2 linked regions of the Homo sapiens genome follow. The protein of the gene in region 1 interacts with the protein of each later gene in a pairwise test. Each region holds a gene or a part of one and is shown in the gene's direction. Other genes may lie near its edges.

What was found.
Region 2: the proteins of ELOVL5 (region 1) and PROM1 interact in a protein complementation assay, tested with the Homo sapiens proteins (one study listed by IntAct).

The regions. Positions count from the first base shown.
Region 1 is NC_000006.12:53,293,135-53,297,049, reverse strand, and holds part of ELOVL5 (very long chain fatty acid elongase 5), read left to right. Parts: intron 1-1,342; 5' UTR 1,343-1,350; coding exon 1,351-1,408; intron 1,409-2,558; coding exon of another isoform or gene 2,559-2,767; exon of another isoform or gene 2,768-2,962; intron 2,963-3,915. UniProt on the Homo sapiens protein: Catalyzes the first and rate-limiting reaction of the four reactions that constitute the long-chain fatty acids elongation cycle.
Region 2 is NC_000004.12:16,077,126-16,081,040, reverse strand, and holds part of PROM1 (prominin-1 isoform 1 precursor), read left to right. Parts: intron 1-2,737; exon of another isoform or gene 2,738-3,915. UniProt on the Homo sapiens protein: May play a role in cell differentiation, proliferation and apoptosis. Binds cholesterol in cholesterol-containing plasma membrane microdomains and may play a role in the organization of the apical plasma membrane in epithelial cells.

The DNA.
Region 1 (3,915 bases):
CTTTGAAAGTGTCATTGATGGCTCCTCCTATCTCTACGTCCCATCTCATCTGGATTGACTTAATTGTAACTACTACAACCATTAGATGATTTCGTGGATAAAGTAGTTTATCTTAAAATTAGCCAGTGAATACATAACGCTTCAGTGTGGCAAGCCAAGGAAGAGAAGTATTGCTAAATGATTAACAGCTTAGTTAATAAAATCAGTTCTGCCTTTGCCCTTGGACGTTATAATATTGATGATTATTCCTGTAAGAAGAATGGCCAGGAAAGTTGGAAAATCTAGTCAGTATGCATATGAAAAGTTGATTAGCTACCCTCTAAATGTAAATCTTAAATTGGGGAAGGTAGGGAGCTATAGAATCTTAGAAGATGGAGGTAAATCTTTAACTGGTATCTCAAGATGTTTTATTAAGTGAAAATAAGCAAGTAATATATACACACTTCTATATATAATAGTGTTTTTTTAGTTTTTTTTAACTGTGATCCCCACAGTAAGAATATATTTTACATCACAGCTAAGTACATTATACTTATAAATATGATATAATAAAACTAAAGTTTTATAAAACTATATTCATTCTCACTGAGAGCAAAGCATTCTGATTCTCTACTATGATCAATTATTATTTTTAATGCTAAGTTGACATGATCATCTACTAATGGTAGATTTCACCCACAATTGTGAAAACATCCATTTAGCATGACCTCTTTGTGCTCAAAAGAGGAGAAATCTCTGGAAGTATATTGAAGAAATGTTACCATTAGGTTCCTTGTGATGCGTGGCTTGGGGATTGAGGTTGAGGGAAGTAATGAGATTTTTGCCCCTTTTTTTTAATTTTTAATACTTGAATTTTTTTTTACTGTAGATATGAAGTACTGTAAAATAATAATTGATAAAAGTAACAAGCGGAAAAAACTGTCTTGTCACTGTGGCATTCTGTTCCCTGATATGGCTCTTCCTTGTCTTACCTCAAGTCCTCAGTTGTTGCCCAGACAGGATCTCTTCCTGTCTGCCACCTCTCATTCCAGTTAGTTCCACTTTTTTCCCCACTGAGATTTCAGCTTCACGGAAAGAGTTTTTATGGAACTAAGAAAAGAAGTTCAGAAAACTGGCACTTCATTTATAAAGTGAACTCACAGAATTGTGTCTTTCCTTTTGATCTTCAAGTTAGATCTAGCACAGAAGTCACTTCTGTGAATTAAATTCTTTTAACCTAAGGAACTGAACTTAACCTTGTCTGTAGCATATTCTTTGAAAAGAATTTATTCTTTTATGAAAAAATACTGTATAAAAAACATTTTGAGTAGAGATTAATCAGTATCTTTTTTTTTCTTAATAGGTTTTCAAATGGAACATTTTGATGCATCACTTAGTACCTATTTCAAGGCATTGCTAGGCCCTCGAGGTAAGGTGGTTTTTGGTTTTGCTTACCTTCTGCAGCATCACTCCCTGCCTATAGTCCCTTGTAAATATTGCATGAGGAGATAGTAGAAAATGTTAGCATTTTCTATGATAAGTCTAAAACTTTATCCTGGATAACAAGGAATTTGGAGAAGTCTCTGACAGAGACACCTGCTGTGGGTGGTCCTCCGTTGACTTTAACTGGAGTTTAAAAATATGCTGTAAAGCTTGTAGCCTGAGAATACTATAGATTTCACCATTATCAGTGGCATTTTTTTCTCAATTCTTGGCAGTCTTTAAGAAAAACTAGTTTCCAAAATGCAGTGTTGCAATAGGAGTTTAAAACCTTTCCCCTTTTACAATTTTAAGGGCTTTTTAAGGTCTTCTCATTTTGTATCATGTTAACTCACTGGTAAATATGCACCTGAACCTTACTTGCTGTATCTTTTAGAAAGTAAATCAGCTTCATATTGCCTTCTTTTGATGTCATCTGTAAAAGTCTTTTAAAGTCTTTTGTATAAAGAACTTCTTAGGCTCACAGAAAAACTAGAAATGGCTTTTAAACAGACAAAAAGAATCTCAGTTTCTCATGATTTTTAAAACACAAAAGAAATAACAAAAGGACTTAGTCTATTAACATGGCAGAGATGAAATAATAGGTTTCATGTCACCTATGATAATAGTGATAATAGTGAAGGCGTGGAGAAAGAGTACAACCTCTCTGAAAGGCTGTTTTGCCTTCTGTTGGAATTAAAATGCACATGCCCTTTTGCCTAGCCATTCTACTCCTAATACTTTATCCTGTGGCTAGCCTTGATTAGTTATGCAATGATACATATCAGGATGCTCATTACAGCATTGTTTTTCAAGGAATCATCTGGATGCCTGTCAGTAGGGGAGAGGTTCTGTAAATTAGTGTATGGCCCATTGAAAAGAACAAAAAAGAATAAGTTAGATCCATCTGTATGTGCTTGGGTTGGGATAGTGCCTTACTTTAGCTGTAAGGGACAAAAAATCCAACTCTAAATGGCTAAAATAATAATAATAATTATTAGCTTGCATTACCAGGTGGAGCAATTCCGTAGTTATTTCAGGGACTGTATGATGTAACCAAGGATCCTTGTTCTTGTCATTTTCTACTTTGCCACTTCCAGGTATCAGCAGCTCTGTCCTCAGAATGGGTCCCCCACTTCACACAGTTGTAGGATGGCTACAGCAGCTCCAAGCAGCACATTCAGAGGAAGAAGAAAAAATGTTTCATTTGTGTGGTTTTAAGCATAAAGAAGTTGTTTCCCAGAGCTCTTTGCCAGCTGTCATCCCTCAAAACTCACTGGCCACAATTGCTTCACATGCCCCTGCCTGAACCAGCCACCAGAGGGGGTTAGGACCACCACAGATTGACTAGATCCTAAGGATTCTCTACCTGGGGCTGGAGTTCGGGTCAGGTGCCCGGGAAGCACTGTGCGGTGTGGGAGGATGAATATGTGCCAATTTGGAAAGATGAGTATTTGTGGGAAAATGAATAAAGCAAAGTGTAAATCAGAGGTTTAAGTTAAAATAGGGAGATTTGTGTGTATTTATTGTTTGTGATATATATGTTCATACAAAATAACAGTCTGATGTTAGTTGCTAAGTGGGAACTGGTTTTCTTAAAATTGACAGCCAAGGCCCAAAGCTGAGAACAAAAGGTGTTAAGCATCCCCTTAAAGTCCCTGGGGCCAGCCATTTCCCTGAATGACTTCTAAGCACAACCAGTTCTGCCGGACTGACAGTAACACCCTCCGTGACCATAGCATAACTAGTGGGGAGGGTGTGGAGGGCATGTCCCTCTGAAGCCAAAGCAAGCCAGCCATGAGAGAAATGCTGGGAAAGTTTAGTGTGTACAGTGCAAGAAAGGAAGACTGACTGACAGTTCCCCACGTGGACATATGCTTTATTGAGCCTGTTCTTGTTCTGTGAAATCAAGGTGAAAACGACTGGAGAGAGTAGCAAGATGGTCCAGTCTGGGAGGGGTCAAAGAAAGGGCAGAGCCGGGTGTGGTGGTTCACTCCTGTAATCCCAGTACTTTGGGAGGCCAAGGCAGGTGGGTCCCCTGAGGTCAGGAGTTCCAGACCAGCCTGACCAATATGGTGAAACCTGGTCTCTACTAAAATTACAAAAATTAGCGGGGTGTGGTGGTGTGTGTCTATAGTCCCAGCTACTCTGGAGGCTAAGGCAGGAGAATCGCTTGGACCCTAGAGGCAGAGGTTGCAGTGAGCTGAGATCACGCCACTGCACTTCAGCCTGGGCGACAGAGTGAGACTCCGTCTCAGAATAAATAAATAAATGAATAATAAAAAAATTAAAGAAATGGCAAAGGCTGTCCTCCCAACTGCTGCTTCTCTGAAGACGCAGTAGGTGAATGCTGCATGTGCCTCATGTTCTGGAGTTGTGAGCCTTGGCGGGTAGTTAAGATTGAGGAGCCACAGGTTTTCGGGGAACATCATAGCAGGGTTCAAAGGGGAGCATGCT
Region 2 (3,915 bases), on another chromosome or scaffold:
ATGTATATATATAAAAGGACTTCTTGAAAGGATGGTCCCTGGGTGGCTTAGGTAAGTGGCAGCAAGGCTGGCTAGCCAGGCTTAGGAATCTAGGACATGCCACAGGACCCCTGATGGGTGGGTGGCTGCGGCTGCCAGAACAGGACCCTGGATGTGGCTACTGGCATTGCTGCCATCATTGCTGGAATGAATTAGATACTGTCCTGCTTCAGAGTGCGCAGGCCCAGGCCCAGAAGAAAGCTTCTGATTGGCCCAGCATGGCTCAGCTCCACCAGGACACAGTTTGGGCGCCTCAGCTGACCTCACAATGCAAGGCAGGGCTGCCTCCCACCCAGCTCACAAACGTGGTCTCAGATGTTGGGTATCCCCCATGCCCCCGCCAAAAGCACTCCAGATGACAAAAATCCACTACAAAGCTCTTCTTTAAAAAGAAAGATTCTGAGAAGTTCCATCAAAAGAAGAAAAGAAGAAATGAAGGTGATTGATCACCATATTTGCTTTTTCATTTTTAATTTTTTTTTTTGAGATGGAGTCTCTGTCACCCAGGCTGGAGTGCAGTGGCATGATCTCAGGTCACTGCAACCTCCGCCTCCCGGGTTCAAGTGATTCTCCTGCCTCAGCCTCCCGAGTAGCTGGGACTACAGGTGTGCACCACCACACCTGGCTAATTTTTTTTGTATTTTTAGTAGAGACAGGGTTTCACCATGTTAGCCAGGATGGTCTCGATCTCCTGACCTCGTGATCCGCCCGCCTCGGCCTCCCAAAATGCTGGGATTACAGGCTTGAGCCACCACGCCCGGGCCATATTTGCTTTTAAACCAGTATTGAAATGCAGTTCTCTGGACTCCAGGCTCAAAATCATGTAAGGTCGCCCAGGCTGGAGTGCAGTGGTATGATTATGGCTCACTACAGGCTCAGCTTCCTGGACTCAAGTAATCCTCCTGCTTCAGACTTCCGAGTAGCTGGGACTACAGTTGTGCACCACTACGTTTGCTAATTTAAATTTTTTTTTTTTTTTTTTTTTTTTTTGTAGAGACAGGGCCTCTCTATGTTGCCCAGGCTGGTAGCAATTCTTCATTGAGTACCAACTGTGTTCCAGGCTCTGGGGATACAGAAATAAGCCAGGGACCTGCACAGCAGCTGGGGTAGATCAATTCAAAGCAATATGAAAAGGGCATTTGGGGAGCTTTCACCTTACATGTGTTATTTTCCAATGTGTTTGGGAAGCCTGAAGTGTCCTTGGAAAGTGACATGAATTGACTAGGCGGGTACTCCAGGATCAGAGTACTCCAGGAACAGAACTGTTCTCAAACTTTGTTTGAAGGATCAGTCCCCAGGAAAGCTTGTTAAAAATGCAGATTAATGGGTTTCATCCCAGAAATTAGGTCCATTAATAGTCTGCATTTCAACTAAACACCCCATTTTATCCCGAGACAGATGCTACTCTCAGTGGCTCTCGGACCTAGTGGGGTTTAGCTGGTAAATACTCAGAGCTTCTGTTTTTGGCACAACCTATTAAACCCGAGATAAAAAACTCTTCCTCTTTGACTTGACTTTAATCAGTTTCTAGTATTTCATAGTTAGTGAGATATTAATACTTTCTTAAAATGTACTTTAAAACTTCAGAGGGACCTACATTTTGGAGCAAGATGTAAAGAAATCTGGAAGTGCAACTGCAGTTGCTGTCTATCTCAAGTCATTGTCTCCCATCTTTGCTGCGGTGAGCAGTTATGTTTCACTTCACTGGGAATTTCCCTTCCCCTGCTTTGTCACTGAGGGAGTTGGAGAGCCTGTTTGTTCATAGTTCTTCCCTTGGCAGTTTCTCTCTGTCCTGGGCTGAGGTTTGGTGGAATTACCAGAAAGTGGGCCTTCTCAGCATCTGAGCCTTTAATCCTTCCAGCTGCTGTGCTGGAGGCTTAGCTCTCTGCCTGTCCTTTAGCAAAAAAAAAAACCAAGATAAAGTGTACATGTGGTGTGTTGTGCTTGCAGTAGATGTTTGAAGGGAGCCCTTTGGAAACACCAGGGTCAAGGTGTCTATTGTGGATGTGACGGTGGGCGTAACCTGAAGCGTGGGCCTGAGGTTAGTACTGGCAGCCACTTGGGATCTGAGCAGCCCATGATTTGACAAAGGAAGAATTTGGGGCCCTTGTATTGGTAGCTTTGTGCAGGAGTAATTGGAGTGGGACAGGACTTAGAAGATGAGGCAATGGAGGGATTAGATATGAATTAACATCTTTGTTCAAATAGCTCAAGAAATCCCATCTGTTGTCCAAAGCTTTCTTTGACTTGGAATATTGGTAGTGGGTCCTCTGGCTTCTTGCAAAGTATGTCACCTTCTTCATCATCCCCCTTCCCTTTCTTACAGTATGTGTTTCAGGAGCACCCTGTACTTATCTTGAAAGTTAGTAAGTATGTATCTAGCTCACAAAGTGACAGCAGCTTGCTCTTGCTCCAGGACACTTAATACAGAGAGGAAGAGTGGTACACTTGGGATCCTTCCAGGTTCTGTGCTGATTTGCCTAGTCTCATGAAACCGCACAAGGAAATAACATATTTTGGCTTCTACGCCAGCACTTGCCCTGTAGCTCTGGAGCAGGCTGTGTTTGGTTTCCACCCACCTACCTGGATTAGGCTGAAGGCCCTGCTCTAAAGCTTTGCAGCCTCCTGTCTGGGGCACTTCTTGCTGCAGGCAGGTTACATGCATTGGTGACTCTGCTGCTATTTCTTTCCCTGCCAGGGATGGTGCCATGAGTGAAACAAGCTGCTCAGCAGGCACTTACTAAACACCGACTACGTGCCATGCCCAGTGTTAAGGTCTGGGGATTGAAAGAAGAGTAGGACAGAGTCCATCTTGGAGGCACTTTCTGTCCCATTCCCTTCCCAGATGCTGGAGCCACAGCTGCTTTTAGGATTCTTGTGTCTTTCTCCGTCTCCCAAGGGGTAGGTAAGAGTCTCCCTCTGCCCTGGCTTTCATCTCTGAGACCCCTAGTTGTAGAGGTGGTGACTTAGGGTGAAGATTTCCATCAGGATTACTTGGTAAGCTTATTAGAAAGACAGGTTCCAGTGTTGCACATGTGTCCAGCCTCAAACGGTGTGGTCCCTAGACTTGAGGCCATGCCCTTCTACTTTGGATTCGGGGTGAGGTGGAGAGGGGGATGTTTGAAATGAGATTAGTGAGTAAATAAGTAGAATATAAGGCAGAGTAAGATATATCTCCAGCGGCAAAGAGAACAACACACACTTGGAGAAGAAATAAGCATATAAGCATGTACTGGATTGCTGGGGCCCCAGTGGCTCGTACTAGAGCCTGAGAGGGAGGGCACTGAAGGGACAGTGTCTTGATGTCATAGTTAGATCTTGGACTTTGAAGGCAAACTAGTGGGTTTGACTCTTGGCCGCATGGTTAATTGAAGGGGTGGGTTGCCCCTCCACACCTGTGGGTGTTTCTCGTTAGGTGGAACGAGAGACTTGGAAAAGAAAAAGACACAGAGACAAAGTATAGAGAAAGAAATAAGGGGGCCCAGGGGACCAGCGTTCAGCGTACGGAGGATCCATCCTGGCCTCTGAGTTCCCTTAGTATTTATTGATCATTCTTGGGTGTTTCTCAGAGAGGGGGATGTGGCAGGGTCACAGGATAATAGTGGAGAGAAGGTCAGCAGATAAACACGTGAACAAAGGTTTCTGCATCATAGACAAGGTAAAGAATTAAGTGCTGTGCTTTAGATATGCATACCCATAAACATCTCAATGCCTTACAGAGCAGCATTGTTGCCCGCATGTCCCACCTCCAGCCCTAAGGCGGTTTTCCCCTATCTCAGTAGATGGAACATACAATCGGGTTTTATACCGAGACATTCCATTGCCCAGGGACGGGCAGGAGACAGATGCCTTCCTCTTGTCTCAACTGCAAGAGGC